5 separate regions of the Homo sapiens genome follow, and regions 1, 2, 4 and 5 are each reported to be linked to region 3. The links are microRNA targets in miRTarBase. Many come from high-throughput screens and were not tested one by one. Region 3 holds a microRNA gene; each other region holds the end of a gene's coding sequence.

The links. The annotated mature microRNA hsa-miR-580-3p reads UUGAGAAUGAUGAAUCAUUAGG and lies in region 3 at 3,486-3,507, opposite strand. An mRNA with a match to its seed (bases 2 to 7 or 8) in the 3' UTR can be bound and repressed. Matches are read on the target gene's strand: a 7mer-m8 pairs with bases 2 to 8, a 7mer-A1 pairs with bases 2 to 7 and ends in A, and an 8mer does both.
Region 1: the mRNA of GUCD1 is a reported target of hsa-miR-580-3p. Seed matches in the 3' UTR shown: 7mer-A1 at 3,753-3,759, 8mer at 4,192-4,199, 8mer at 4,477-4,484 and 7mer-m8 at 4,493-4,499.
Region 2: the mRNA of AKAP5 is a reported target of hsa-miR-580-3p. Seed matches in the 3' UTR shown: 7mer-A1 at 3,649-3,655.
Region 4: the mRNA of XRRA1 is a reported target of hsa-miR-580-3p. Seed matches in the 3' UTR shown: 8mer at 4,187-4,194.
Region 5: miRTarBase lists PSMC1 as a target of hsa-miR-580-3p. Seed matches in the 3' UTR shown: 7mer-A1 at 4,430-4,436.

What each region holds. Positions count from the first base shown.
Region 1 is chr22:24,538,542-24,544,944 of GRCh38, reverse strand. GUCD1 (guanylyl cyclase domain containing 1) reads left to right here. Exons shown (of 6, transcript NM_001284254.2): 5 at 862-1,103; 6 at 1,848-4,507. The coding sequence ends at 1,939. Among named protein-coding and RNA genes, the nearest start is that of GUCD1, 13 kb to the left of the region's middle.
Region 2 is chr14:64,466,937-64,472,925 of GRCh38, forward strand. It overlaps AKAP5 (A-kinase anchoring protein 5), which reads left to right. Exons shown (of 2, transcript NM_004857.3): 2 at 1,196-5,989. The coding sequence starts at 1,459. The coding sequence ends at 2,742. It also overlaps a transcript of ZBTB25 not described here. Among named protein-coding and RNA genes, the nearest start is that of AKAP5, 4.4 kb to the left of the region's middle.
Region 3 is chr5:36,144,422-36,150,824 of GRCh38, forward strand. It overlaps MIR580 (microRNA 580), which reads right to left and starts at 3,567; the gene lies at 3,471-3,567. All of the region lies in intron 1 of LMBRD2 (LMBR1 domain containing 2), which reads right to left.
Region 4 is chr11:74,838,193-74,844,595 of GRCh38, forward strand. It overlaps XRRA1 (X-ray radiation resistance associated 1), which reads right to left. Exons shown (of 19, transcript NM_001378157.1): 17 at 5,976-6,091; 18 at 5,662-5,767; 19 at 2,718-5,261. The coding sequence ends at 5,008. It overlaps RNF169 (ring finger protein 169), which reads left to right. Exons shown (of 6, transcript NM_001098638.2): 6 at 1-4,221. Among named protein-coding and RNA genes, the nearest start is that of RNF169, 93 kb to the left of the region's middle. RefSeq lists an enhancer at 5,661-6,403.
Region 5 is chr14:90,270,478-90,276,880 of GRCh38, reverse strand. PSMC1 (proteasome 26S subunit, ATPase 1) reads right to left here. Exons shown (of 11, transcript NM_002802.3): 11 at 1,452-4,608. The coding sequence ends at 4,474. It overlaps NRDE2 (NRDE-2, necessary for RNA interference, domain containing), which reads left to right. Exons shown (of 14, transcript NM_017970.4): 14 at 1-6,403. Among named protein-coding and RNA genes, the nearest start is that of PSMC1, 17 kb to the right of the region's middle.

The DNA of each region.
Region 1 (6,403 bases), not on the chromosome of region 3:
AGGCTTAAGTGATCTTCTTGCCTCAGTCTCCCGAGTAGCTGGAACCACAATCTCATACCACCACGCCCCACGCCTGGTAAATTTTTAAATGTTTTTGTAAAGACAGGGTACTGCTGTGTTGCCCAGGCTGGTCTCTAATTCCTAGTCTCAAGCGATCCTTCCGCTTTGGCCTCCCAAAGCACTGGGATTACAGGTGTGAGCCACTGTGCCCAGCCCTGCTCTAGGTTTTCATTTGGATTTGCTGCCTAGTGGAAGGCACAGGATGGGGCAGTGCCTTCTGCCAGTGAGGGAGGCTCCAGGTAGATGTCATTGCTGAACTGGAGCTCCCCTGGAAGCAATGTGGCCCAGCCCTTCCTGGGCAGCCCCTTCTGCCACCAGGAGCCTTAGAAAAAAAGTAAAATAGCTCTTTCAGAGAAGCATTTGGTTTTGAAAGTGTCTGAGCCATGCTTGGCTGGCAGTTTTCAATGTAAACCACACATGATTTAGGGTAGAGGAGAGACAGGGCTGGGCAAAAAGAATTCACTAACCAGGCTGGGGTGCAGTAGGAGGATGGTTTCTGTGTGCTGCTCTAGTGGCCCTTGACTGGACCCACCTGGAGCTGAATGCTCTCCCCGTGAAGGGCCTGACAGAGCCAGCTCATCTTTGTGCACATTCAGACACACACACACACCCCCCCCACCGGTCTCCTGCTTGGCTCTAGGCTGAGCCTGGGCCACAGTGACAGAGCAGGGAGTTCAGGGCAAAGGGAAAAGGAGCCGATCCCCAAGCTTTGTAACAGAGAAACAGGCACAAGCAGGGATCCATTTGAGGGATGGGGAATGGGGGCCCAGCAGCACCAGCTGACCCCCCTCCCGCCCACAGCACAGTGAGTGTGAAGGACATCCAGGCGCACCTGGCTCAGGGCCATGTGGCCATCGTGCTGGTGAACTCGGGGGTGCTGCACTGTGACCTGTGCTCCAGCCCTGTCAAGTACTGCTGCTTCACCCCCAGTGGCCACCACTGCTTCTGCCGCACTCCTGACTACCAGGGCCACTTCATCGTGCTGCGTGGCTACAACCGGGCCACTGGCTGCATCTTCTACAACAACCCAGCCTATGCCGACCGTGAGTGCTGGGTGGGGTGGGTGAGGCAGAGTGGTCCACATTCACTGTTCTGTATGCCCAGTGCCCACAGTTCCCACCCATTCAATCTAGTGTGGCCAGGGCCTCCCTCCCTACCTTTTCCCCAAAGCCCCTGCTCCTCCTGGGCTCTTGTCACTGTGGCCACCCCTCAGGCCATGCAGGCAAACCTGCCGCAAACTGTGCCAGCCTCCTCTACACCCTGGCCACCCCTCCCTCTCACACCACAGGCCCCACGCCACTGCCCAGGTCCCTGCCTTACCCTTTCATGCTGCCCAGGCTGCACCCCTCCCCCAACCACCAGGATGGCCGGCACATTCCTCAGAAAGAAAAGCCCGGCCAGACCCAGCCCCTGCTCTAGACCCATCCTGGCCTGCCTACTGCCCTCCGGGCACAGGGAAGGGCTGCCCTGACTCTCATAGACTGGATTCACATAGACAGCCCCTGGACGCCCTGACCACATAGACTTACCCCGTCTATGTGGCCTGGAGCACGTTTCTGCCCCTCTCTGGGCCTTTCTCCAACTGCTTTACTGGGGAGGAGTCAGAGAAACCTCATGAAGACCAGGATGGGCAAGGAGGGCTTCCTGGGGGTGGAGGACTTGAGTTGAGAGGAATGGCCATGTGGATGGGAAACAGACCTCACTCAGCTCCCCTGGGCACTGTGTCGGTGGTGTAGGTGCTCTCTCACAACCCACTGACCCCGTTCTGCCTTCCCCACCCCCAGCAGGAATGTGCAGCACCAGCATCAGTAACTTTGAGGAGGCCAGAACCAGCTATGGCACAGATGAGGACATCCTCTTTGTCTACTTGGACAGCTGACAGCAGGAGCCTGGTGCGCCTAGGCCCTCGGACCCCATCCCCACCCCAGCCGGGCCCGCTCAGGATGCCCTGGCCCAGGCTTGGGGCTGCTGGGGTTGGAATGTGGAACTGCAGCCTCAGCCCATCTGGCAGAGTCCCAGGAACTCGGAGACTGGCACAGCTGCTTTGTCTGCCAGTGCCGTGTGTTGTCATGTCACTCACCCCAAGCACCTGCTGGCTGCTGGAAGCATACCCCAAGACCCCAAGCCTTGACTCCAGCTGCGCCCACAGGAAGTCCAGTCCCGACAGTGCCCTTGTTGCCTTTGAGCCAGATCCATGGCAATGGTCTCCCCACAGACCGCAGGACTGAGCCTGGAGAGAGAAGTTGCTTGACGGATGCCACTTGTCAGGACAGTATGTGAGTGTCTGGAGACAGCATAGCTGACCCCAATCCCCCAGGGCTGAGGACCCCTCCAGGCCCCTCTCTCCTGGAAGTGCTGCATATGCCCCTGTGCCCAGTGGTTGATGATACCACCACCACCTGCCTACCCATGGGCCCAAGTTTCTGTGGCTCATTACAGGGCATCTGACCCCTGCCACCCAGCATAGACACACCTCACAGCTGCCCTGCCATGCAGAGCCCTGGCCGCTGGAGACTCTTAAAGCCCCCACAGCCCTCCAGGTCCTCCAGCTCTGTCAGATGGAGGGCTCTCGGGCCTAGATCCCACTGGTAGGCCTCGTGGCTGGCAGCAGTGCTCTGGGAATAAACAGCTGCCCTAGCCCCAGAGGGATCCCTGCACCCAGGAGGCCTCCTGACACCAGCCAAAATCCTGACAGCAGGGTCTGCCCTCTTGAGTGTGGGGAGCCCCTAGTCCTTTAAGGTTGGCTGCTAAGGCCTGTGCTCCAAAGCAACGGGCTGGGGCAGCCTGCAGCTGCCCACCCAACCTGGTCTTCACACCAGATTGCACAGGATACTGGGTCTTGTCTATCTTGATGGAGAAGAGGGGTTCCTGCCCAGGATCTTACAACACAGCAAGTAGCATAGAGCTCTTTCCTTCCTCTTTTTTGGGGAGGTTGGGGTCAGGGGTTGTTTCTTTGAGATTTAAGTTTTCATTTTTGAGGGGTAATCACCTTCAAGTAAAACAGTAATAGCAAGAGTGAAGGTACTTTGGAACCACTAACACCTCTGCACAGGGCAGTTAGCCAGCTCAAGTTCTTTTTCAGAGAAAGGGACTTGGCCAGTGGTTTAAGTACCTGCCCCTTCACCTCTCAGACGAGGCAGCTGACGAGGCAGCTGGCCCAGTCTTGGGAGTCTGCTCAGGACAGTGGTGGAGCTGGGTCTTGAACCCCAGTCTGCACCTAAAAAACTAAAGGAAATGGATTTTTTTTTTTTTTTTTGAGACGGAGACTCACTCTGTTGCCCAGACTGGAGTGCAGTGGCACGATCTTGGCTTACTACAACCTCCGCCTCCTGGGTTCAAGCGATCCTCCTGCCTCAGCCCCCCACTAGCTGGGACTACAGGCACATGCCACCATGCCCGGCTAATTTTTTTGTATTTTTAGTAGAGACCAGGCTTCGCCATGTTGGCCAGGCTGGTCTCGAACCCCTGAGCTCAGGTGATCCACCTGCCTCGGCCTCCCAAAGTGGGAAATGGGTCATTTTCAAAGGGGCAACAGTGATACCATCCCTGCACTCCTGGGTCCTGCTCTTCCAATGCCCAAGGCATGGCATGGTGGCAGCTGTGCCCCCGCCCATTGCTTTGGAGCACAGATGACTCTGGGGGCAGAGGTGGGCTCTGTTTAGGAGGGCAGTGAGACCACCCAGCCAAATTGCTTCTCAACCCTAGACAAAGCCTTTGGCCAAGAGGGAGGTGCTGTTAGTTGGGCAGCCCTTCTGGGTTTCAGAGACCGGTGTTGGCTCTAGACTGGTCTCATCTCCATTGCCTTAATGCCAGGTGGCCCAGGAGTACCCATGCACAGCAGCTGTGGGGTGTGGGCATCTTCAGGTGGTGTTCTGGTAAAATTGTTAGAATAGCTGTATGAAGGAAACCAGTGGGAGGAAATGAAGTTTTCAGGATGGTGGGATGTGATTTAGACAGTGCACATGCTGTTAGGGCTGTCACTAGGGAGTGGCCTTCATGGAGGGTGGTAACAGCACCTCAGTCCAGCCAAAATGTTTAGAAACACTCAGTCTCTGGTCCCAGAGGATGGCTTCTCAGGGCATGCCACAAGTTAAAGGTCACCTTCCTGAAAGATGAATGAGAAAGCTGCCCATTCTCAAGACTCATCTGCCTAGGGAGGGTCACAGAGGCAGGATGTAAGACACACTGTGTTGCATTCTTGCACAAGTCATGAAAATGGAGCCAGAGAGCCTGGACATCAGGGACTTTTGCCCACAGCACATGACACCGACAGCTGCCCAGCCTGTTCACATGCTGGGGACCAGCACAGCACCTGAAGCCATGTGGGACAGTTGGGCTTTGTTCATTCTAGCCACGGGGATGAAAGGGATCTTTTGCATTGCAGAGATTTTATATATATTTTGTTTGTAATGAGCCATTCTCAATAAACATTATTCTCACTGCAAAATGGTGGTAGCCCCTGGCTGGCCTTTATGAAGCTGTGTTGATCTGCAGAATTCCTGTCCCTTCTCAAGTTCTCAGCATGAGCACATGGGAACCCAGGTCCTTGTCTTGCCATACCCAGTTTAGCTGGGACTGGAATCCTGTTTTCTGTTTTCTAGGGCCATATCCATCCCGTTCAGGCCTGGATGCTTGTGCCTGTCCTGGACAGGCAGTACTAGAGGTAGAAGGGCCTCGGGGCTCAGCTCAAGTGAACTGCAACAAATGCAACTACAGGAGACACAACAGAATGAGGGAGATGTTGAAGCAGGAGAGACGAAAGTGGGTGGGATGGTGAGTGCTGGGTGGAGCTGGCTGCTCAGAGCATGCAGAGTTGGGGTTGAGGTAGACAGACCAAGAGTGCAGTAGTGCGATCTCGGCTCACTCCAACCTCCACCTCCTGGGTTGAAGCAATTCTCCTGCCTCAGTCTCCTGAGTAGCTGGGATTACAGGCACACACGACCACGCCCGGCTAATTTTTGTATTCTTAGTAGACACAGGTTTTACCATGATGTTGGCCAGGCTGCTCTCGAACTCCCAGCCTCAAGTGATCTGCCTGCCTCAGTCTCCCAAAGTGCTGGGATTACAGGCATGAGCCACTGTGCCTGGCCAATGTCATCACTTTTAAAGAAGCACTTCTGTTCCTTCCCATCCTCCCTCAAACACATCATCTTGTCTGTCTCCACTGCTATAGCCCCAGTATCTGACACCTAGTAGATGTTCAGTAAATGTGAGTGAACGGATAGTAGGCTAAAACAATACCTGTTTCAGCAGCTTTCCTGTACTTTTCAGAACTAAAAGTAATCATTAAAGGGGAGGCAGAAGGCCGGGCACGGTGGCTCATGCCTGTAATCCCAGCACTTTGGGAGGCCAAGGCGGGCAGATCACCTGAGGTTGGGAGTTCGTGACCAGCCTGACCAACATGGAGAAACCCTATCTCTACTAAAAATACAAAATTAGCTGGGCATGGTGGCACATGCCTGTAATCCCAGCTACTCAGGAGGCTGAGGCAGGAGAATTGCTTGAACCCGGGAGGTGGAGGTTGTGGTGAGCTGAGATCACATCATTGCACTCCAGCCTGGGCAACAAGAGCAAAACTCTGTCTCAAAAAATTAATAATAATAATAAAGGGGAGGCAGAACTTGAATCCTTTGATGTCACCCAGGATTCAGGAGACACTCTCTCCTACAAGGAATGGTGGAAGGAGCAAGATGTACTGCCCATTAGAAAAGCTTCAAGTGACCAGGTGTAGTGGTTCACGCCGGTAATCCTAGCACTTTGGGAAGCAAAGGCTGGAGGATCACTTGAGGCTAGAAGTTCAAGACTTGTGTGGGGCCGGGCACAGTGGCTCATGCCTGTAATCCTAGCACTTTGAGAGGCTGAGGTAGGTGGATCATTTGAGCCCAGGAGTTTGAGACTAGCCTGGGCAGCATGGCAAAATCTTGCCTCTACAAAAAATTAGCCGGGCATGGTGGCACGTGCCTGTGGTCCCAGCTGTTCAGGAAGCTGAGGTGACAGGACCTCCTGAGCCCAGGAGGTCAAGGCTGCAGTGAGCTGTGATTGTGCCACTGTACTCCAGCCTGGGCAACAGGACAAGACCCTGTCTCAAACAAACAAAAAATGGCCAGGCATGGTGACTAACACCTGTAATCCCAACCTTGGAAGGTAATCCCAACCTTGGTAGGCAGATCACTTGAGCTCAGAAGTTTGAGCCTAGTCTGGGCAACATGGTGAAAGCTCATCTCCACCAAAAATACAAAAAATTAGCCAGGCATGGTGGTGCACACCTGTGGTCCCAGCTACTCGGGAAGCTGAGGTGTGAAGATGCTTGAGCCCGGGAGGTCGAGGCTGCAGTGAGCCATGA
Region 2 (5,989 bases), not on the chromosome of region 3:
ATAGTTTGCCAACTTATTTTTGGCTTTTAAATTAGTTCCTGAACCAAAAAAATAAAATATAAAGAATTTCAAAAGCTTGGTTTTCAAATGACAAGAACTCAGTCTACTCGTGGTTCAATTATGAGTTGATAAGTGCCTTATGGTTAAATGACCATTAATCAATTTTTTAATTTTTTTACTAATGAAACACTGCAGATTAGTATCCCCAAACAATTCATTTTCTGACGAAACTCTTAAAGCCCAGTTTCAGAACATAAGCTTTAAGCAACAAGCAATCTTGTGTTAATCTGAGCTCTGTTACAGCTCTGCCGTAATCTCAGCCAAATTGCTTCATCTGTACGTGGTGATACCACCATCTTTGTAATATTGTGGTGAGGATTAGAGATGTATGTAAAAGTGCATGCACTGCCTAATACCCAAGAATTGCTCAATAAATGTCAGCTATTACTACTCTTACTGACTTCCAACTATGTGCAGATTATGGTGGAAACATGTGATACAGCAGATACAGTACTTAAATGAAAATGTCAAAATTGTACAACTAATTTAAGAGTGGGAAATGACAGTAATGCTAAATTTTCCTAAGAATATGTATGAAAAATAGCACTTCCTTGATGGAACATACATTTTTAGAACAGAAACCTTATGTTATAATGGTAAAACTAGAGAGTCAAAGTCTCTAGTTCTAACTCTGGCTATGACCTTATCTAGTTGCATGGCTTTTGACAAGACAACTGCTCCCCTCTGGAGTTCAGTTTTGTCATCTGGCTGGATTTGAGTAATCTCAAATAATCTCTAAAGTCCTTTGCAGCTTTAAAATTATCTATTGAGTGTGATAAAGATTACATCAGCTTGCTTTTCATCCTGCACTTCATTTTTGGTTCTTGTTGTTTGCTTAACTTGCACTTTAGAGTCATAAGCAATTCACACAGACAACACAACTAAAGAACTGATAATATCAGACTTGCAGGGTAATCCAAAATGAAGTTTCAACAAGGAGGATAAAACAAAATAGAATCACACTGAACTCTTTAATAGGGCCAAAGTAAACCCCAATGTTTATTCTCCAGTCATTTCATTAAGTTATTATATGGAAAATATGCCTGGTAGAATCTTATACATTCACTGAAATAGTCTCCACAGAAAATAATAGGCTCATAGTGAAATAAAATACCACTTTCTTTTCTCTCATCAGGTTGATCTTTAAATAAAGCAAAAATTTATCCAAAGAAGGGCTTTCATCAAGAAATTAAAGAGAGAAATTACAAGCCATAGAGAAACTGGGCATTTCTATACTAGAGAAACCACCTAAAACAACTGTATGGAGTAAGATGAAAGGTATGAATATGCCTGGAAGAAATTTTACCTAGTGTGACATTTTTGCTCATCTTTTTGTCACAAAAGGCTGCTAAGGAAGAGAGAATACAGTTTTCTAGAGAATAAGAGTGCAGTGTAAAAATGGAAACCACAATTTCAGAAATTCATGTAGAAAACAAGGATGAGAAGAGATCAGCAGAAGGTAGTCCTGGGGCTGAAAGGCAGAAGGAAAAGGCATCCATGCTTTGCTTCAAGAGAAGAAAGAAAGCAGCCAAAGCACTGAAGCCCAAAGCTGGCTCTGAAGCTGCTGATGTGGCAAGGAAGTGTCCACAAGAAGCAGGAGCTTCTGATCAGCCAGAGCCCACACGGGGGGCCTGGGCCTCACTCAAACGTCTTGTAACACGCAGGAAAAGGTCAGAGTCTTCAAAGCAGCAAAAGCCATTGGAGGGTGAAATGCAACCTGCAATAAATGCTGAGGATGCTGATCTTTCTAAGAAAAAGGCAAAATCTAGACTTAAGATTCCCTGCATAAAATTCCCAAGAGGGCCAAAAAGGAGTAATCATTCCAAAATTATAGAAGACTCAGACTGCAGCATCAAAGTCCAGGAAGAAGCTGAAATTTTGGATATACAAACACAGACCCCATTGAATGATCAGGCAACAAAGGCTAAGTCAACCCAGGATCTAAGTGAAGGCATCTCACGGAAAGATGGTGATGAGGTCTGTGAATCAAATGTGAGCAATAGCACAACTTCTGGAGAGAAAGTGATTTCAGTAGAACTTGGATTAGATAATGGGCATTCTGCTATTCAAACGGGAACTCTAATCCTTGAAGAAATTGAAACGATCAAGGAAAAACAAGATGTTCAACCCCAGCAAGCAAGCCCACTTGAAACTTCAGAAACAGACCATCAGCAGCCAGTACTTTCTGATGTTCCTCCTTTACCTGCAATTCCAGATCAACAAATTGTGGAAGAAGCCAGTAACAGTACCCTAGAAAGTGCACCAAATGGAAAAGACTATGAAAGTACAGAGATTGTAGCTGAAGAAACTAAGCCAAAAGATACTGAATTGAGCCAAGAATCAGATTTTAAAGAAAATGGGATCACTGAAGAGAAATCCAAATCAGAAGAAAGCAAAAGAATGGAGCCAATTGCTATTATTATTACAGACACTGAAATCAGTGAATTTGATGTTACAAAATCTAAAAATGTCCCTAAGCAATTCTTAATTTCAGCTGAAAATGAGCAAGTAGGGGTTTTTGCTAATGATAATGGTTTTGAGGATAGAACTTCAGAACAATATGAAACACTCTTAATTGAAACAGCCTCTTCTCTAGTCAAGAATGCTATTCAGTTGTCAATAGAACAGCTGGTTAATGAAATGGCCTCTGATGATAATAAAATAAACAATCTTCTACAGTGACTTACTCTCCAGAGTCACGGCAGAAAAAACAAGCTTAATGAAGAATTCTTTTATACATTTGTGGCATTTCTTACTCAGTAACAAATGAGAGATTTATCATCTCTAGAACTTAAAAGGTACAATTCCAGCGCAGAAGTGCTAAAGATTAAGTCAAGTTTATAAAACTCTACCACTGAAATGCAGTCACTTCTGGATTGGAGGAAGTCAGCACAGATTGCAGTGTAAAATGACATAACATACAGGGAGTTGCTAAAATGGCATATGGAGATTGGAGTGCTTTGGGGGAGGAAGGTGTATTTATTGAGCACTTATGGTATGCCATAAGCTTTTTAATGACCTCTGATATAACAAAGTCTGGTTTCCTTTTGATAATTCAGCTCTGTGTATAGGCTAACATCACATTAAGTTTTTAAAAACTTATTTTTTACAGTGCACATATATGTTTAAAATGGTGAATAAGGTGAGCTACTTTTGTGAATGTGATTTGTAATTGTTACATTCCTAAGCAGCAGGCTTAACTCAAAAAATACATTGCATTTTCCCAATTTCAGCAGATAGTGTGCAGAATATGCATATTGATATTAAACGTGAGTGGTTTCCTAGTCTTAAGTCTCTTATAAGCGCTATTTGGCCAGGGGCAGTGGCTCACGCCTATAATCCCAGCACTTTGGGAGGCCAAGGCGGGTGGATCAGCTAAGGTCAGGAGTTCGAGACCAGCCTGGCCAATGTGGTGAAACCCCATCTCTACTGAAAATACAAAAATTAGCTGGGCGTGGTGGTGCACGCCTGTAATCCCAGCTACTTGGGAGGCTGAGGCAGGAGAATTGCTTGAACCCGAGAGGTGGAGGTTGCAGGGAGCCAAGATTGCACCACTGCACTCCAGTCTGGGCAACAGAGCGAGACTCCTTCTCAAAAAAAAAAAAAAAAAAAAAGAGAACCATTCACAAATCCTTCAATCAGGCAAATTGTTACTAAGTGCAAAAGTGTAGAAACAGGGAGAGTGGGTTTTTCCCCCGCTTTTCTTTCTGCCTCAACAGATCTGTATATATCCATTTCTGCATGGATTTATCTGTGAAAAGTTAAAAAATGAAACAGCAAAAACAAAACAAGGGGAATATTATTCTTCATCCAGGAGAAGGGAAAATTCCCAAGTAAATTATCACAGATAATATAGGATTCATCTTGCAGAATTACTTCTTTAAGAGCCATATTCATCAACTTCTCTCCAAAGAGGGGAGAGTAGATTCAAAGCCAGCCTGGTAGTAATGGTCCTGGAAAATCCTAATAATCTAGTGCAAATATTTATTCTCGGCCAAAAATGAGCCATGAATGTGGGTGAATAGAAAAGTGAAAAGTTATTGCTAAAGCACATTATAATTTAAATGTCAGTATTCCTTCATGTCTGTGTGTTGAGACCAGTAAAAAGCATTTTACATGAATATTGAAAGTTAACTTTTTCATCACTATTTTCTTTTCTTTTTTTTTTTTTTTTGAGATGGAGTCTCACTCTGTCGCCCAGGCTGGAGTGCAGTGGCGCGATCTTGGCTCACTGCAAGCTCCACCTCCTGGGTTCACACCATTCTTCTGCCTCAGCCTCCCAAGTAGCTGGGACTACAGGCGCCCACTACAACGCTCGGCTAATTTTTTGTATTTTTAGTAGAGATGGGGTTTCACCGTGTTAGCCAGGATGGTCTTGATCTCCTGACCTCATGATCCTCCCGCCTCGGCCTCCTAAAGTGCTGGGATTACAGGCATGAGCCACCGCACCCGGCCTTCATCACTATTTTCAATCCAGATATACTTTACAAAAATGAGAAGGGCTTATTTGCATTTTTATTTACATATTGAAAGGGAAGCATCTGATCTCATCAATGATTGCCATATTTTTTGAAAAAGTAATCCTATTTCAATCTTTCCTTGTGTGAAATGGCCATAATACCAGAGTGCACTTCCCTACCTCACAGGTTAGGATTCAAAGTGTGTATTCCCCCATTGTGTAAATTGAGTGATTGTGTTACTACTTGAAACAGATGAAGTAATAAAGATGAAGTATGAGATGTAAGGTATTTGTTCAAGAGCTCCACTTGGAGGAAATAATGCACATTAGATGATTTTAAATGATCTGGGTGAATTCTTGCATTGTGTATGGATTGCATATAGAAAGTATTTGCTACTTTGTCCTACAGAATCATCTTCATTTCTTTCTGTAAATACATATTGAGACCTCTAACAAAAGAAACTAATCTGACTTGGAAATTGAACCAAATCATGGATATTATTAGCAAGATTCTTTGCTGAAGTGCAAAAATATTTCCCCCAGATTTTCCTACCTTCATGCTTATAATCCGGGGAGGAGGGTGGAAATCCTGAGCAAGATGAAAAGTGTCATTCAAAACACATGACCCAAGAAGTCAATTTCTTTTAATTGTACAACTTTTAAACATTAAAAACAAAAAAGACGAGTCATCTTCTCTGAAAACACTCTTTAACTCACTATATGTGGTGCTAATGGACTTGGACAGCTACCAGCTATCATATTTAAAAGTGAACCATTTTAAAAACCTGACTAAGGTTGGTGCATTTTACAGTGTATTGAAGAATCCTGCCCTCATTTACTGCAAGGATGCCTCCAAGCCAATACACTTGCATTGTAAATGTTTAGTAATCTCATGAACAAGCAAAAAGTATAGTACTTAGCAGTTATTGGAAATATTTTGGGGGATTTTTAAAAAAACAGATAAATGGTAAATATGTGCAATGAATTTTTTGGTTAAGAAAGTAAAATTTTATCTAATACTAGGTTTTTACTTTTTTCACTGTGGTTTGATATATATTTTTGGTTAGAATGTACTGATTGTTTTTATGATAAGATGTATATTTTACTTGCATTCATTCTTAAGAGGTTTCTGTTTTTCTATTGAGAATATCTGTTGAATTAAGTAGGATTTCAGTTAGAAAAAGGAATTCCGAAATTAACTGGTCTCAATCTGATTATATGTGCTACATGGCCAAATCCTATTACAGTGAATTCTAAGGTGATTCAAATTGTTTTATTGTTATAGAAATATGCAGAAATCAGATGGCTTCAGAGTCATAAAATATTTTTCTTGTAATAGTATTTAAGCAATTTGACCTTATATGCAAACGTTAAGTGAATATAAATAAGTTCTGTTTCAATTCATGTCCATTTAACAACATTAAAATAATTATTAGGAACACCACATGAATTTTCTTTACATTTGCTGTG
Region 3 (6,403 bases):
CCTGTAATCCTAGCACTTCGGGAGGCTAAGGCAGGCGGATCACCTGAGGTCAGGAGTTCATGACCAGCCTGGGCCAACATGGTGAAACACCATCTCTACTAAAAATACAAAAATTAGCCAGGTGTGGTAGCGGGTGCCTGTAATCACAGCTACTCAGTAGGCTGAGGCAGGAGAATCGCTTGAACCTGGAAGGCAGAGGTTGCAGTAAGCCGATATCGTGCCATTACACTGAAGCCTGGGCAACAAGAGCAAAATTCTGTCTCAAAATAAATAAATAAATAACAAAATAAGGGAGAACCAATGAAATACTTCAAATCAACAAACATCTTTAACTAAAACTATTTAGAATAATAGAAAAGACAATTTAAGTACTTTAAATGGTTAAATTTAAATTTATATACAAAATACTCCTACATGAACTATCACATAGAAAAATCACATTTAATGAACAATTTTCTTCACTATTTTTTATATTGGTAAACAGTTTCCATTTCAACTGTCAATATTTTCATTTTTCTTAATTATCTAAAATTGAACTTCTTTCATCAATCTCTACCCTCTTATCCTGCTATATTTTCCTTCAATGCATTTATTCATCTGATATAATACACATTCTTTATATTTATTGTCTCTCCACACCTCTCCCCTTACCCCAGAGACTCTATGAGAGCAGAGACTTGACTATTTTATTCCATACTATATTCCAGTTGTCTGATGTAGTTAGTACCTGGCATACAGTAGTATCAAGAAATATTTGTTGAAATAATAAAAAATACTGTGTAGTTTAGTACATACACTATTTTTCTATTACTGACGACTTCAAAGGCAATGTAAAACTCGTGTAATGGTAAACTGATTTAACAAATACTTATTACAACTCAAAAGGCTTAAAACTCTGAACATTACCAAATACTACTCAAATTTTCAAATTTCATATTCTATGAAACAACTTATACCACAACAAAGTCAAATCTTATGTTTTAAAAAATAGACAAGGTTTTGCCATGTTGCCTGGGCTGGTCTCGAACTCCTGAGCTCAAGTGATCCACCTGCCTCAGCTCCCAAAGTGCTGCAATTACAGGCATGCGCCACAGCGCCCAGCCAAATCTTATTTTTAAGCTAAGCATAGATTAAGTAGTTGGCTGAAAGCTCAATGCAGAATGTGCTGATAACAAAACCATCTTCGAGATCTAGGGTTTTTTTTCTTTAAAAAAACCCAATTGATGTGAGTTTAAATATAACATAATTAACTGAAAATCCTTTTATGACTTGAACTAGACCTGAAATTGTCCAGTGCAAGGAATATGACAATCATACAAAAAAAAGACTAAATATTAGAGATTACCAAAGAAATGCTAAATAAAGCATGGCAGAGCCAAATGATGAAATATTATTGTAGTATAAGAAATAATGTTTGTTAAGATTATTTAATAACATCAGAAAATTACCCTAACAGCAATTGAAAATTTGGCACATATTTTTACATAAGCATAAAAAAGAGTAAGGTAACAATGAAATATATTAAAACATCAATAGTCTTTAGGTGGTAAGATTATGGGCATAATAAGCAAACAACAAAATCAGTTATAAACCTGACACTAGCTATTAATTTTTTTACTATGGCACTCTGTTTTTCAGTCTGATTCATAGTCAGCACTTTAAAGGGTTGTAGATGAAGAAATAGAATTATGGATCCTTTATTCTAGTAATAAATGATTTGGTTACATACCTTCCCACACTTCATGTGTTAGTATCTTACCACTGCTGTAACAAATTACTACAAACTTAGTGACTTTAAACAACATCCATTTAGTATTAATATCTTATAGCTTCTGTAGGTCAGAAGTTCAAACATAGCATAGTTCAACTTAGTTCTCTGCTTAGGGTCACACAAGTTTAAAATCAAGGTGTCAGCAGGTTTGCATCTTTCTCTGAAGAAGAATCCATTTCTAATCTCATTCAGGCTACTGGCAGGGTCTCACACTGTCGCCCAGGCCGGAGGGCAGTGGCATGATCATGGCTCAACATAACCTTGAGCTCCTGGGCTCAACTGATCCTCCCACCTCAGCTTCCAGATAGCTAGGACTATAGGTGCACACCACCACGCCTGGCTAATTTTAAAAAAAAATTTTTTTTGTAGAGACAGGGTCTTGCTATGTTGCCCAGGCTGGACTCAAATACCTGGCTGCAAGTGATCCTCTCACCTTGGCCTCCCAAAGCACTGAGATTTCAGGCATGATCCACCTAGCCAAGCCAAAACTCAGTTCTTTATGGTTATAGGACTGAGATCCCTGTTCCCCTGCAAACTGACAGCTGGCATTTAACCTTAGCTCTAGAGGCCTCTCCCCAGTCTTTGCATGTGGCTCTGTATATGTTTTTAAATTGTATATATTTAAAGTGCACAACAGTGATGTTTTGATATACTGTACATATACAGTGAAATAATCACCATAGTCAAACAAATTAACATATCTATCTCCTCACTCACTTCTCTCTCTGCGTGTGTGTGTGTGTGTGTGAGTGTGTGTGTGTGTGTGTGTGTGTGTGTGTGTGTGTGTGTCTGTGGTCCTGAATATTTTAGAAGCAGCAATGGCTTGTCAAATTCTTCTCACACTTGAAATTTGTTTTACAGGGCTTATCTGATTACACTGGGCCTGCCTGAATAATTTCATCATTTTTACTGGTTCCAGAGATAAGAGCATAGACATTCTTAGGGGTTTATTATTCTGTTTACCATACCATCTATTTCTGTTGAGGCCGAACTATATTGCCTTATTATGACACAGATTAGGACCAGTGATCCCATGAAACTGGAGATAAAAATTGGGGTTTTCCTAACTTGAGAAAATAATAGTTTCAAAGTCCATATCTTTAACCTTGTGCCAACATTCAAGTGATGAGTTGCAAGGTTTAGGGAAGAAGGAGAAGAAAGGGGATGATAATGATGATAATGATGATGATGGTGATACTAAAATGGGGAGGTAAATAAAAATTCAGTTCCATGTGATTAAGCACCACAGTAGCAAAACTTGATTATACTCGAAATCAAAATGGCAATTCATTAAAACTACCAGATTTTAGTGCCCGATGTGTGGGCATATCGTACCCTTCAAAACACCAGTTCTGAAAGTCTTAAACATTTAAAATCCAATTCAATCTTTTTCCAATCATCAAAATATTATTCAATATTACTTTCAAATGCCTTTATAATGGTTTCACAATTAGCGTGTTAATGTTACTGACTAATGTTACTGACTAAAGTACTGTTTCCTGAGTACTTTACGGCTGATAATAGTTTTTCAGGCCAAATACCCTTTGATGGAACTTCAGAGGTTAAGATAATTTTGTAGTTTGAAGAATTCCAAATGTTTTGAGAGAGAGAGAGAGAGAATGGGTACCAAGTGATCAGAACACAAACAAAACACTGACAACAATTTTGTCAAAACCAAAGATTCTGAAACTGAATGAAAAATTTCTGACCGGAACCTAATGATTCATCATTCTCAAATACTGTTAACTTAAATATCTGAGTCTGATGAATCATTAGGTTCCAATTGGAAATTTTATCTAACTTCACATATCTGTATTTTTACTCAGATATGTGCAAAATAATAAAAACCAGGAGACAACTCAAAATCCTAATTATGAAAAATCAAAAGAACCAGAATTAGAAGTGAATGATTAAGTCAACAATTTTCCACCAATAATTAAATTTAAATCTTCCAAACATAATCGTTATTCACATATTTAAAGATTTCAGGTATGAGAGAGTTCAGTTTAGGACACAGACTACTGCAAGAGACTATTACTCCCACTCGAAAAATGAAAAAAAAAAAAAAACCATCATAATATTTTTTAAAGGTACCTAAGAGCTGAGTTGGCGAACCAACCAGGTAACCTGAATTCCAAAATGTGACAAGCCCCTGAGGACAGTGGCATACTGTCCTGCTTTACCTTTTGCAAGGCATGAAGAGAAGAGGTAGCAATCATGTAAGCATATAAGAAAAAAGAACTAAAATTTTACTGAATTCTTAAAGATTTCATACATAGAAATTGCAAGACATTTTGATAGAGAATAATCTGTAAAGTCCTTCCTAATAATAAAATAATTTCAAAAAACGAATAGCTAACATTTAGAATGTGTTCACTAAATTTTAAGCATTGTATTAATACTAGTACCTGCCAAGCTTTATCAAATTAGACCTCACAACCTAGTAAGAAAGGGCTGTTCGTTTCCTTGCTTAACAGAAAAAAAACAGTGCAGAGAGGTTAAGTAACTTGTCCAAGTTAACAGAGCTGGTGAATGGTAAAGCTGGGATTCAAATAGAGGCATCTTTACTACAGAGCCTGGATCATAATTACATGTCTCTTCTCTAATCTAGACATAGTTTCTTAATGCAATTTAAATTGCTTAATGATTTATTTTGTTCAGTCTTCACAGGGAACAAATTAGAAACTTTCTCCCATTTCTTTTAGATATATCAGGACAGAATGCTTAGTCATGTTTAATAAAGAATTTAACGCAAACTTTTTACATTACAGATTATACTACTATTACTTGATTTAAGGGTAATATATGACTGTACTCTACATGGGAAAAGTGGAAAACATAGAGTAAATTAGAATCCGTTTGTTCTTGCCCCAAGCTGCCTATCTTAGAGCATTAAATTACAATGAATTAAAGATCTACTTAGTTCCAAGCACCATTCATTCATTTAGCAAATATTTACTGAACGCCTACTATATGGTGAGCTCTGTTCAAGGGGCTGGAGATAGAAAAATCCAAGCAAAGTCCCTGCCCTTAAAAAGTCTAGTGGGAAGAAACAGGCAATTAAAAAAAATACATTAGGGGGTGATAAGGGTTATGTAAACAGGTAGCTGCCACCACCACAGAGACTATCAGTTCTGGAAATACATTATTCAAGATTAGTTTGGCTACACATAACAGAAAAGTCCAATATAGTACAGACTTATACAATGCAGAATTTATTTCTCGTGTAAGTCTTGAGATAGGTGGTTATGGCAAGTTAGCAGATTATCAGAGGCCCAGGCCCCTTCTATAGTCCACATCCTTAGCAGGTGGCTTTAATCCTTATGTTCCAGGACAGATGCTGGAACTCCAGGAATCCTATCATCATCTAGACAGCAGGATGGAGAAACAAAGAAGGGTGGACCGTCTTCCTTTTAAAGAGATGTAAGAATCGGCTGGGCACGGAGGCTCACGCCTGTAATCTCAGCACTTTAGGAGGCTGAGGTGGGTGGATCATCTGAGGTCGGGAGTTCGAGACCAGCCTGACCAACATGCAGAAACCCCGTCTCCACTAAAAATACAAAATTAGCCAGGCGTGGTGGCGCATGCCTGTAATCCCAGCTACTCAGGAAGGCTGAGGCAGGGGAATTGCTTGAACATGGGAGGTGGAGGTTATGGTGAGCCGAGATTGCGCCATTGCACTCCAGCCTGGGCAATAAGAGTGAAATTTCTTCTCAAAAAATAAAAATAAAATTAATCAGAAAAAATAAGATACATCAGTAGCAATCACAATGCAGTTCTTTATGACCAGATAGCAACCTCTATGTACCTACTAATCTCGTCTTCAATGGACACAATTCCTTACGTTAAAAAGAATCTAATGTACCAATTTAAACTTGCATTTATTATATTAAGGCAATAGTCATGATTAGAAGGAAGGCAAAAAAAAATTATTCCCATATTAGGAAGATGAAGTATGTCTGTTACCGGGGCAAACTATCAAACTGAATTTCAAAACTGACAGGCTCTCCCTGAAGTCCTAGAGAGGATCTTGTGTTCACTAATTCAGATGTTGCAAGTATTCTAGTTCCCAGGTAACTCCTAGTAAAACCAAGACTGAACAAAGATATTTCTCATCTTTAAATTTAGAATCATCTCATCGATTAAACCTTCCTATCTATGAGATCTATATCTGAAGTGGGCTCTCCCAATTATTTTACATCTCAAAACTGTTTATTCTCATTATGGCATCTTAAATATTTTTGTTTATTCTTTCTCCTCCATTAGCTTACAGGCTCTCTCTGTTTTGTTCCCTTTCCTGAAGGAAACTATAATTTTTTGTGTCAAAAATATTTTCTCCTATGAGTTGCAATCTTCAGGGAAAGGACGTAGCTTCAAACAAAGGCAAATGCTTTCTCCTTAGCCAAAGTAACATAAAGGTCACTTTCTGTAAAACATCAGGATATTGCATTTTAAAATGCTTTCCATATAACATTAGTTTGATGAACGGCTTAGCCTAGGATTCTGCACCTAGTTCCAATCAAAACCAAGTTGTGAACAGATCCCTTCTTTACACCAATCTCATCTTTCAAGAACGAGCTAAAGGTTCATGAATTCCTTCCTCAAGAGGCAGTTACTTTTCAAGCTAAGGAC
Region 4 (6,403 bases), not on the chromosome of region 3:
TCCTCCTAAGGTCCTCCTCAGCTTCTAGACCTAGAAGCCAAAGTCCAGAACAGTGACCCATTGATCAAGGCAGATAGTATAACTCCTTTTAAGTGTTCTCAGATTTGCCTTTTCTCAGGGCAAATCTTCAGTGTTTTGTGGTTATTTGTGGTTGAGAGAGAGAGAGAATGTAATGTCTGAGACTAGCCAGCAGCTATTTGAAGCCTCTGGGAAAGAAGGTGGCTTATCAAGTGGGTTTGTAGTAATGAGTGCTGCTGTAAAGCAGAGCCATTTTCTTGTGCAGCTCATAGTTCCCAAACAGTTCCCAAACAGAAATTCCAGAGATGTCTTAAACATTGTGGTCATCATTGAGATAGGTGGAATCTCTTTGGTGACTACGTTGGTGGGGAACATCACTCACCTGAATGTATGCATTCTGTGTTCTCTGTGTGTGTGCACATATGCAGATGTATGTTTTAAAAACATTTACCAAACTCATGATTTTGTAGTCACACCACTTCAGTTCTGGGCCCTACCAACAATTTATGTCCTCCAAGAGCTGCTGGAGGGCATGTTTGTGCCCAAAACAGAAGAGCTGGCTCTGGTTTACAGAAGACAGGGAGGGTGACCTTACTATAAATGCCCTTAGAGGAAACTTATCAGTTACTGCCATTTCACGCATTTCCTTTTTGATCTTAGTAAATATTATTGGAAGGCTAGTCTTGTTGGTAGGAGCAAAGACACTTATTTTTCCACTTGCCATCTTTCTCTATATCTCCAGTAATTTGAAAAACACTTTTCAGTTGGAATTGATTTTTGTCTTTGGTAAAAAGAAATATTTTTAATAGATAAAAGATATATATTTTAAATATTTCCCCAAATTAATACTTTCATTTTAAGAATTGCATAGCAGTTGTAACAAGTGCAGAATGAAGAACAAATTCTTGTTAAGCAAATAGTCCAAACTCTAGGTCCAGCTTACTGCCTTCCCCCCTTGTACCTACAGTGATGCCTAGGATGGTATTGACAGTTGTTTTCTAAACTTCCTGCTGAGCAACAGTCCTTCAAATATAGGTAGAGTGGTCTAGGTTAAGGAGGGAGGAGGGTTGATCTTTAATCAGGTTGGCTTTGGAGGAAGGAAAAACCACTAAGGTATTATCTGAATTTTAAGATGCTTCCCATCCTTAATAACTAAAACCTGAATGCTTTTCTTTCTGAAAAATCTCCCTCTCTCCTTCCATGATTCTGAAGTTGGTTAAAAGTCGATATGTTGATGTGTATTATTTGGGGGAACAGAAAAGGACAAGGAAGGAAACAGAACGATGGGAAGGGTTTGTGAGCTAGAATAAGAGGTGCAGGATTTCACAAAACAAATTCCTCACAAATCATTGAAGCCCAGTTCACCATACAAATTACCCATGTCTTACTCTGTTCCTTGTATATATGCATTCTGGGTTTTTTTATTATTAAAGGGGAAGTTAGGGGGGAGGGTGAAGGTCAGTCTGAGGGGAAATCCAGGAAATGTGGTGCCCTTAGAAGGGGGCTGTCAGCTCTTTTCCATAGAGAGGGAAAGAAACTTTGAGAAAATGTTCTTGACCCATTGATTGTATCTGCTGGAAGAAGTCATCTGGGCCTGTTGGGTTGGTATCAGATCAGGGGATTATGCATCCAGCCCCTGGCCCCTTTAATCTATTTGCCTCTTTTTAAAAAAGGTTAAGTCTTCTTGGGTGAGGCTTGCCAGGGAAACTCCTAAGTGGCTTCACTTATTTTTTAAATTTTAATTTAATTTTTAAATTTTTGCTTGGAAGCAGCACTGGTAATAAATGTTTTATTTTTTGTTCATTTTCCCTAAAGGAAAAATGTCCTTAAGAGATTAAAGCTCTTAATTGATTACTGTCTGGTTACAAACTGGCAAACTGACTAAAATGGGAAGCTGCCACCGTGCCTGACTCATGTAGCTGATGACCGAAGGCTCATCCTTTCTTTTCTATTTGACAGACATTTACTGAGCTTCAGACTTGAGCCAACCCTGAGCTGGACTGTGGAGATAAAGCAGTTCCTGCTCTTGAGGAGCTCAATGTCTAATGGAATGCATTTGAATGTATGTGTGGCTGGAGAGTTCATTTATGGTCTTAGGAAAGCCATTTCTGGTCCCATTTAGAAAACTGACCAGCACCCAGCAAGCTGCATTCTACATTTTAGAGACCCCATTGGTATTTGTGAATTTGATTGCACCACCGCTTTTCCTTTACTAAGTAATGTTATGGAAGGAGAATGAATTTTCTCCTCTAGTGATTACAGGACATTAACATCTCTTCAGAAGCTGCTTTTAGCTTAAGCCCCAAGAAGTGAGGTGGGTTGTGGATCACTGACATGGTCAGGGGAGGCCCACACCTCAATTCAGTAACCACCTAATCTCTCCCCCAACCTGATCTCTCATCAGAGCTGGCAGCAACTTGGGATTCCTTTCCTTTTTCCTGCCTAACTTTTCATTGAAATGTCTAGTAGGAGAGTGAGAAAAGAGAACAAAGGCTGGGTCACAGTCATAGAATGTTACAGCTGGAATGGGCATGGAAATCATCCAAGTTAAACTTCTTCTCTGCCCCCCGCCCCCACTTTTTTTTTTTTTTTTTTTTAACCAAACGAACTTGTGATCCAGTGCCCTATTTTATAGTGTGGTTTTCCAGGGTCTGAATAAATAATCATTAAAGTTTGACACACGCAGACACACGCACCAATGATGGGGATACCCCCAAATGATTTAGGAGGTTATTTTATTTTAATAGTTTTTTCTTCCTGATTTTTTTCAGTTAGTTAGAGTTAAATGTACCTATAGCCCCTGAATACATGCTCAGGTAGAGAAAGTCTCCATAGTATAAGTAAGTAATATGAATGTGGAATCTTGGAAAGTGATATATTTTGATTGGAATAATTTTAATTAAATTTAATGATTTTAATTAAGAATTAAAAGCCAGCTAGCCAAATTTTCTTTAAAAATTGGAAACTCATTATGGTCTTAAATTGTCCTCAGGCAGCCTTTTCCTCATCAACCCATAGAGTGGTCTTTTGAACTGGTATCTAAACATACCTGGTTATGAATTCTCAAAAGAGAAAGCAGGTCTGGGGCGGGGTGGTCAGGAGACAGATTCTAGGGAAAGTGCTGAAGAGATTTTCTTCTGAAGATGATCTAGGAAATGCATCTTTATACATGATTGTTAGCTGCTGTAGCTTTCTGAAGAAGATTGTAGAAAAGAGACTAAGATATATGCAAGGGTCACCAGTTTAGAGATCAGTCAAATTGGAAAAAGTGCCAAGACTGGATGTGCAGATTGTTCTATGTATTATCAGTATTTTTTTCCTCTTAAGAAAAAAATTTACTCTCTCTCCTTTGTGAGTAAATGCCTCCTTAATGCCTTTTAAGTAAGGTGGCAACTTTTAACTGTCATCTTGTGAGAGGCAACCTCAAACTCTAAGCAGACTCCCTCTCTCCCTTTCTGGTGTCTTAAATCAAGAACTAGTTTGAAGCCAAGGCAAAGCAAGGTTTGTTCATCTTCCTTTCCTGTCATTTAAGGTAAAACAGGCAATGAACTCGCTCTTCAAATACCATAGTTCAAGAGTAGCTGTTGGCCCTGGTTCCAGATTAATATAGCAGCAGGCAGATTGCCCCTTCTTGGGGCCACCACCCTCCAAAGCTGTGCCACCAATGAGAGCATTGGGTTCAAGTTTGCATCAAACATGGTATTACCAACGCTGAGCCTCCAGCAGAGCACTTAAAAGTCCTAGTGAGAGAATAGATACTATGCAAGGGAAAAAAATTTAAATGCCAACGAATAGTTTTTTTTTTTTTGAACCTGATACACTGTTTGTTTACTCTCAACTCTTTGTACAAATATTATTGTCCTAAGGGCCTTTTCCCCTCCTGCCTAGAAAATAGGTTGTGTATTGGTTTTATTCAACCTGCTGTCTGCTTTAGGATTGGAGAAGGTACCTGGATCCTTGTGGACTGCCACTGCTGGCTGCCTCCTCTCCAACTCATCAGAAGAGCATTTTGACAAAGACAGAGGACTTGGACCAGGGCATGCCCTGTTGGGGATGTTTCTGTCAGCAAGGACATGGCATGGAATCAAGTGGGCTGATGTGTTGTTATTTAAACAGTACCAAAGTGCATTCTTCAATGTATGTTTGCCTGCTTGAAGCAAGGCCCAAGTTGAGAATACAGTAAAGGAAACTCATGAAAGTGGATGTTCTGTTTATAGTCAGAGTCTTGTCTCTGGTGAACAATCTCAGACAAAAACATGGGTTAAGCTTAGGCTGTGTGTGGATTTTTGGTGCTGTATGTGCTCTGGGAGATGCCCCATGTTGGATGTCTTGCTTTGGCATTCAGAATGGCAGTAGAGATTAGGAGCAGGGATGGGGTTTCCATGGTGTACAACTACGTCTTTTGGCATAAGTTATGTCCAGTTTACAGTTTGCTCCAATTTACTGTCATGTTCACATTCAACCATTCATGCTCCTAATGAAGGAACCAAGAAAGAGTCTGAGTAAAGAACGAATATACAGGATGACACTGTCCCTGCACATTAGGGCTGTACTCACAAGATCTGGTTTTTAAAAATACCCTTTTTTGGAGCCATTGTTCAGGAATTTGTTAAGATCCCCTTGGTGTCAGTTTCTCATACAACAGAGAACAAATGTATCCCTGTTGCATCTGAACTGGAAAACCATTTTTAGAGGGAAGTGTGACAATGCTGCTGTGGCCTGGGTTCCAAGAAAGAATGCATGTGGCACCCAGTCTATTGCCCTGTGCACCCACTCTTTATTGCCGCTGGGCCAGGCACCAGGTCATGCCTGGGCCAAGGAGGGGAGATCCTGACAAGGGGATGCCACCTTGTGGCCAGCAAGTGGGGCCCAGCTGAGCTCTGAGGCCTGTGGCCGGCTGGTCAACCTTGAGGTGCGGTCCAGGGCACAGAGCCCTCGGGGAGAGCTGGGGCACAGGCCGGGTGGTGCACACAGCCCCCATGCACAGCTCTAGCCTTGTGAGTCACTGGCTGTGGGCTCCTGGCAGAACTCATCCATGAACTCGAGGAAGTGGCCGAACTTGGGCTGGCTCTCACTCAGCGCTGGGCAGGCCATGGGGAGCGGGGTAGTCCCGAACACTGTGCGCAGAGAGCCACTCACCAGCTGCCGGTAACGTGCCTGGAACTCCTTCAACAGCCTCTTGGCCTCCAGGTACTGCTTGTGGTTCACCAGCCGCCGTTCTGTCCACTGGTGCAGGACAGCACCTGCAGGAAAAGAAGCCAGGAGAGGCACCAAGCTCATCCTGGTTCTCACCTAGCCAGAAGCAAGAGGATTGGGTCCAGAGACCCTTGGAAAATGGGATGGTGTGGCAGGAGGATGCTAAGGGGCTAAAAATGGCCTTTCCAGCTTGGGAAGTCACTGACTTCCTACTGCCCCTATGCATTGACTCTATCTTAAGCCCTGGTTCAGGACCTTAACATGCTGTGTGATTTTAGGCAACTCCCTGCCTCACGCTGGCTCTCCTTTTGTCCATCTACATGTAGAGACTGATGTAGGCAGTTGCTCTCTAAGGGCCTTTCCTGCACTGACACAAGCCCTTTCTTTGCCTTTAGCCAGCAGGCGTGAACTGGATCTGGGATCCTGGCAGCTGTGGCAGAGCCGTACCTAGTGGAGCCTCTGTAATGTTCCGGGGATCCCGCAAGCGAATGAAGATGTCATCCAGAAGTTGGGCTCTAGTCTTCTTTGGGGGTGGAATCGGGATTCTCTGGGCCTGGCAGAAGGTCATGGAGGAGGGTGTTATCCCAGGTTTATGCACAGACTTCCCTGGCCTAACTTCATACAGTCACAGCAACAGGCTGGGGGGCATCTGGGGGTGCTGGGAAAGCATGGCCCTCAGAGGGTCCCAAGGTGACAGCCACATCTGTAATTGTGGGCGGTACTCAGGGGCCATTTACACATTCAGTGAGCTGGATGTTTACCCGTTTCTCTTTGTGAACATAGGGTTTCTGAAGAGTGTCCAGCTTGGGCTTGGAGGAGTGGCACAGGAGTGGGTGCTTCAGCATTTGTTGCAGGGCTTGTGCATTCTTCTGGATTCCTAGGGCAAGAAGGCAAGACTGAGTCAAGGCACTTCCCCCTCCTCCTCCCAGATGCCTCCCCTGATTGCTTCATTCCTCAGTCTCACAGCAGCTCTAGGTAAAAGGATTTGAGAGTCCCCAAAAGAAAACACTGCCCCCAGGTTTCTTCCGGATCTGTTCCAGTGCCTGAAGTTCCATCATTCTTCAGTGAGTATTTGTCCCATATTATAATGGAAAAATAGCACAGATTGTAATGGGTAAATAGTATTGGAGTGGGGGAAAAGGCTGGCTCCAATGTGACCCCATTAACCTCAGGGGGTTATATCGCAGGG
Region 5 (6,403 bases), not on the chromosome of region 3:
CTGATTGGGGGCAGGGAGTAGGAAGTCCAGGACCAAACCATGCTCCCCATGACAGCAGCTGGCGCCTCAGTCCCCATCTGACTCATGTCTCTTCTCATCTGGTTCAGAACTTAGAAGGGCGTGGCCTCTGATCAGCTGGTTCCCTCCAAACCCCAGTGGCAACCTGTCCCTTGAGAGCCAGGAATGGCTCTTAGCAGTGGGCAGTGAGCCCCCGAGAGGATAAAGCGGCTGCTCGAACAGATTGCGAGCACATTACTTGCTGCATGGGAGGAGGTTTAAAACAAATCAAAGATTCCTTGAGGGCATTTTACAGAAAACAAGATGTCAAGAGCATCACTGTTGTTATTTAAAAGCCCATTTGAGGCCAGGCGCGGTGGCTCACGTCTGTAATCCCAGCACTTTGGGAGGCCGAGGCGGACGGATCACGAGGTCAGGAGATCGAGACCATCCTGGCTAACATGGTGAAACCCCCGTCTCTACTAAAAATACAAAAAATTAGCCGGGCGTGGTGGCTGGCGCCTGTAGTCCCAGCTACTCGGAAGGCTAAGGCAGGAGAATGGCGTGAACCTGGGAGGCAGAGCTTGCAGTGAGCCAAGATCGCGCCACTGCACTCCAGCCTGGGCGACACAGCAAGACTCCGTCTCGAAAAAAAAAAAAAAAAAACAGCCCGTTTGAGATTGCTGACATGAACTTCTGAAAGATGACTACGTGCCTCCCAAGACTAACCGTCAGCTTGGAGGGCTGAGAAGGGGGTTCCCAGCTGGAGTCAAACAGTGGCTCATGTGTTTCATCAGGAACGCTCGTCATTTCCCCGAAGGAGTCACTGATCACATCAGACCACAGGGGTCGGCCCACCTCGGGTTTGGGACAGTGTTCTTTCCTGGAATGAAGCAGTGGCAATGCCTCTGGCACAGGATTGCTGGGCCTGCAGGAGGCCAGGAGGCACCTCTGTGCTGTGTTCCCAGTAGGAGGAGGCAGCTACTACTTGTAAGGCACACATATCATTTTGCATTGGAAAAGTGAAGATAGGCTTGCTGCAGAGGGAGTGATGGGAGAGTTCACCTTAAATTGTTCTACTGAGGAAGGGCTCCAAAGAGCCAGTGGGTTTTCCGCAGGCAGACGGGGTTCTCCCTGTCCGGCTCACCAGTGCAGGAAGCCAGGGAAGAAATTACTGTGGGAATTCTGTTATTTCACAAGCACTTCATACCTGCATCCCTGCACTTGGCACCGCAGGCCTCAGTGACCAGCTGCCGAAACGGTAATTTCAGCATTTTGGTCAGTAAGCAAACTGGAGAAGCAGCTGGGGTGGGGCGCAGTTCAGCCCGCTACCCTGACACTCTAGGCCCTGGCATTTGCTTTAGCTGCTTTTGTAGAATTGACATGAGGGAGACTGTCCCTCTAGAGGAAAACGCTCAGCTATTACCAATGAGGAAAAGGCAATACTGATGTGCTGGGGTTTTTTGTTTTTTTTAATCTCAAACTTAGGAAAAGATGCAAGTGCGTTACAAAGAATTTTGTTTCCTGAACCGTGTGAGTCAGTTGCTGAGAGTCTGCTACCCGCCCACGATACAGACACTGAACAGGAAGTCAGCATGGACGCAGTACTCCTAGCAGGTCCTCAGGCCCAGTCATGTCCTCTAGGAAAAGGATCCAGTTCAGGAGCAGGAGCTGCACTTGGTTGTCATCTCTTTGGTCTCCTTCTGATTGGAAGCTTTTTGACTTCCAAGACGTGGATACTTTTGAAGTGTTCTGAATTTGTAGAATGTTCCTCAGTTTGTGTTTGCCTGGTGTTTCCTCAGCACTGGATTCAGGCTAAGCATCTTTGGCAGGAGTGTGACAGCACTGACACTCTTGGGTGGCACGTACTTTCAAAGTGCCCATTACTGATGATGTGCATTTGACCACTTGGTGAAGACGGTGTCTGCTGGGCATCTCCAGTGTGACTTTCCCTTTCTAACTGAACAGTGTTTTGTGGCAGACTCTCAAAATCTGTAAATACCCCTTCCTCAGCAAACTTTCAGATCAATTCATATGTATTGGGGTGTGTGTGTGTGTGTGTGTGTGTGTGTGTGTGTGTGTGTGTGTGTGTGTGTAGTTCCCTATTTAAAGGGCTATACTGTATTCCATTAATAGTAACTGTTTGTTAGGATGCTCAGATTGTCCCGAGTTTGGCCAGTGGAAGCCCCTTCACATAGGCTTCGGTGTCCTTAGGACATGTCCTTATCATTCCTTGAGCACTCCCTTGCTTTCTGGCAAAACAGACTTTGGGTTCATCCTGTCCTTTCCCTGCCTAGCCCCGGAATCAGCCCTCACTCCTTTTAGTGGAGAATAATACTTTTAGCAGCAAAGGTCTGGGTCTAGGGGTGCTCACTGCAGTTGGGGTGTCACTGTTCCCAGGTGCTCCCAGTGGACAGAGGTCGTTCTTGTTTTCTTCTTTCTGTGTCTAACTCCTCAGAGAAACCTGGCTCCCACTGTCCTGTTTACCTGCCTGACTGCCTCCATACATAAGCAGCCTCCCTCCCCTGCCACCACCCCGTCCCTGCAGATGCCTTCCTCACCCACTTGGGCTCTCATACTGCACATCAGGCTGCCCACACTGACTCCCCCTATCGGACCACCCCAGCCCTGCACATACACCCCACACGGATGCCAGCCTCACCCTGCCCATGCTGAGTCCCCGTGCTGTGGTGTTCCTCCACATGGACAGCTCCACACCCTACTTGGGCTGACACCCGCCCTCCCCACAAGCACCCCGTCCTTACCCTGCACTGGGCCACCCCCACGTGTGGATGTCCTCTGTGGTAGGCAGAGTGGCGCCCCTAAAGATGGCCACACCCTAAGCCCTGGAACGTGTGAATGTTACATGGCAAAAGGAACTTTGCAGATAAAAATTAAGAAGATTGTAAACTTTAAAACAGGGAAATTATCCTGGATCATCTGCATGGGTCCAATGCAATCACAAGGATCCATAAGAATAGAAAAGGCAGGCAGAAAGAAGGGTCGGTGGGAGAGAGGGACTGGGCCTGCTGCTGCTGGTGGAAAATGAAGTGCCACGAGTCAGGAGGGAGGGTGGCCTTCACAGACTGGCAAAGGCCTCAGCTGGCAGCCAGCAAGGAAATGCTGACCTCAGCTGGCCCACAACTCCAAGAAATTAAATTCTGCCAACAATAATCCTCAGCAAGGAAACGGATTCTCCCTTAGAGACGCCAGAGGGAACGGTCCTGCCAACAGCAAGACTTTAGCCTGGAGACACTCGTGTTGGACTTCTGACCTACAGAACTGAGATAAAATTGTGGTTTTTATTTATTTATTTATTTATTTTTGAGACGGAGTCTTGCTCTGTCGCCCAGGCTGGAGTGCAGTGACGGGATCTTGGCTCACTGCAACCTCCGCCTCCTGGGTTCAAGCGATTGTCCTGCCTCAGCCTCCTGAGTAGCTGGGACTACAGGCACCTGCCACCACGCACAGCTAATTTTTGTATTTTTAGTAAAGATGGGGTTTCACCATGTTGGCCAGGCTGGCCTCAAACTTCTGACCTTGTGATCCGCCTGCCTCAGCTTCCCAAAGTGCTGGGATTACAGGCGTGAGCCACCGTGCCTGGCCAAATTGTGCTGTTTTTAAACAAAGCCTGTGGTAACTTGTTATAGTATTAACAGAAAACTAATACACACTCCTCATTCAGTGTGGGCCCTACAACCCACACCAGGCCACCTGTCAAGGGAACGCTTACCTTGATCTGTCCCACTTAATAGCTTTAGGCCTGATTTGTTCAGAAAGAGAAATGACGGAAATAGACGGAGAAAGGGAAGGGGAAGTTCTGACATGTTTCTGAACACCTTGAAAGGGATGAGATTTCTGAGCCCAAGGGCTCAGAAGGGCTTTCAAGATATCTCTAGGAATCCTCAGTCTCTTGGGAACACCAGTAGTTATTTTCTGCCCTCAGAGTGCTAAGAACATGCATGGTCCACAAAACTTCCAAAAAGGAAAGCTGTACTTCCTTTGGAAGCAATAGCCACATTAACGCAGCCTTTATTATTTAAACAACGAATATCCCTGGCTCTGTGGTAGTGACCATTTCCCACTGTAATTACCGTTGAACGCCAGCTCTGGGGGTGTGATGTGGCGAACGCATAGTGAGGTCCACACTCCTTGGGACCGCAGCCTGAGTTCCTGTCCAAAGGCTTCCCTGTAGCTGGGTCCACCCACAGGCTGCTGTTGAGCGGTAGGTGTGTGTGGAGACTGCAGAAACAGGAAGTGTTTGTGAAAGAGCACGCTTTATTGGGAAGCAGACTGCTGCACAGTGACCAACAGGCCACCCAATGGGCACTTACACATCGTACTCCAAAAGACACAGGATGTTTTGCTAATAAAAATCAGTGGGAACAGGGATTCCTCTGGGCAACTCCCCCAACCTCATCCCTTTCAGGGATTGAGAAATCTCCCAACCATTTTCCTGATGACAGCCATGGTTCATTAGAGATACAGCCCCTCAGGGGTGCCTTCCTGTTTCTTATAAAGAACATTTTCTTTAGATTTTTTGAAGTCTTCATTTGTTACTTTCATTCTACGTTCTCTTAAGGCCATCAGACCAGCTTCTGTACAGATTGCCTGTAAGAAAGAAGAGTGTGTTCAGAAAGTGACATACTCATTTTTATTCTAACAAGGAATTCCAAAAAACCTATTCTGAGGCCAGGCGCGGTGGCTCACACCTGTAATCCCAGCACTCTGGGAGGCCGAGGCAGGTGGATCGCCTAAGGTCAGGAGTTCAAGACCAGCCTGGCCAACACGGTGAAACCCCATCTCTACTAAAAATACAAAAAGTTAGCCAGGGACGGTGGCAGGCACCTGTAATCCTAGCTACTCGGGAGGCTGAGGCAGGAGAATTGCTTGAACCCGGGAGGCAGAGGTTACAGTGAGCCGAGATCGCGCCACTGCACTCTAGCCTGAGCAACGAGCGAAACTCTACCTCAAAAAAAAAAAAAAAAAAATCTGTTCTGAAATAAAGCATGAGACACCTAGACTAAACACAAATTGCTTATTTGGGAAAGATTTGATTTTTAAAAAAAATGTTTTAAGCATCCTATTTTCTGAAAGGATGTGAAGTGGCTTAAACTGGGAGTTACTGTAACTAAGACTGACCCAAGGGTCAGGGCTGTGGGTTCTAGTTTTGGCTCAGGTTCTAACAAGCTATGTGGCTTGTACAACACCACTTTTGTTAAAGAGAATAATATTCCTAGGAAATAAACAAAATTATGCCCTGAAACTTAGAGGCAATTGACAGTATATGTCTATTTCATTTACTTATAGTCATAAAAGAACATGTATTCTGGTTAGATACTGTAAGTGGCAGTATCTATACTATGGAATAATACTACAGAGTATAGCATTTATTCCAATATATTTAATTTCTCAGTAATTACTGGCCCAAAGTAAAAGAAAACAATAACCCATGTTACATGGGTTACTGTTATTGTTTTAGGCCTGATCTGTTTAGAAAGGAAAGAGAAATGAAGGAAATAGATAGAGAAGGACAGCAAACAAACATATTATGTGGGTTACTGTTATTGTTTTCTTTTTCTTTTGGCCAGTAATTACTGTGGCAAAAACAAGATGTGGCAAAAAACACAATCCTGGCACAGAAGTTTGTTTGGTGATGGCCATCAGGTTATTTACTTCAAATGGTTCGGGTGAAAAGAAAGTTTTGTGTATAGAAAGAGAAAAAGCAAACAGGTAAAATGTTAACTCTTGGCAAATCACTGTGCTATTGTTGCAACTTTTTTGAAGGCTTGAAAATTGTCAAAGTAAGTTCTTATCTTAAAATTTTAAGATCTTTCAATTTTTAAAAAAGAAGATAGATTTTACTTGCCAACAGAGACATCTAGTTCTCTAGGACTAACTGCCAATGATCCGTGGGCTCAGGGCAGGTGCTGGCCTGGAAAGGCACTGCTTGTGCTGTCCCTACCTAACCATGGCATTTATGCCCAACGAAAACCCAGCTCTTTCCAGGAAAAGCAGGTAGAACCCATATTCAACGCTGCCAGACCTTGCTGTAAATTCTGGTCAGCTGGGAGGAAATGTCCTAACTCATGTACATTTGTCATAAAACCAAGAAGTATAATCTGGTACAACCTTCCAGAACACAGATTGGGAGATGAATGCAGCGGGTGCTTGGTCCCCACTCTGCGGCTCTGGGGAGAGTTCTCCCAGGACATACCCTTCCCCTGACCTGGGACTGAGCAGCTACATTTGACACACCTTGAGAAAGTCACCTGGGCCTAAGGCTTAGTACCAGCGACTCAGCCTTGTGGCTCCAGGTGATTTAGCGTCATTCACTGCATAAAATGATGCATTAAGAATGACTTCAATATCAAGCACATATACCATTTGGATGTAATCGTAAACC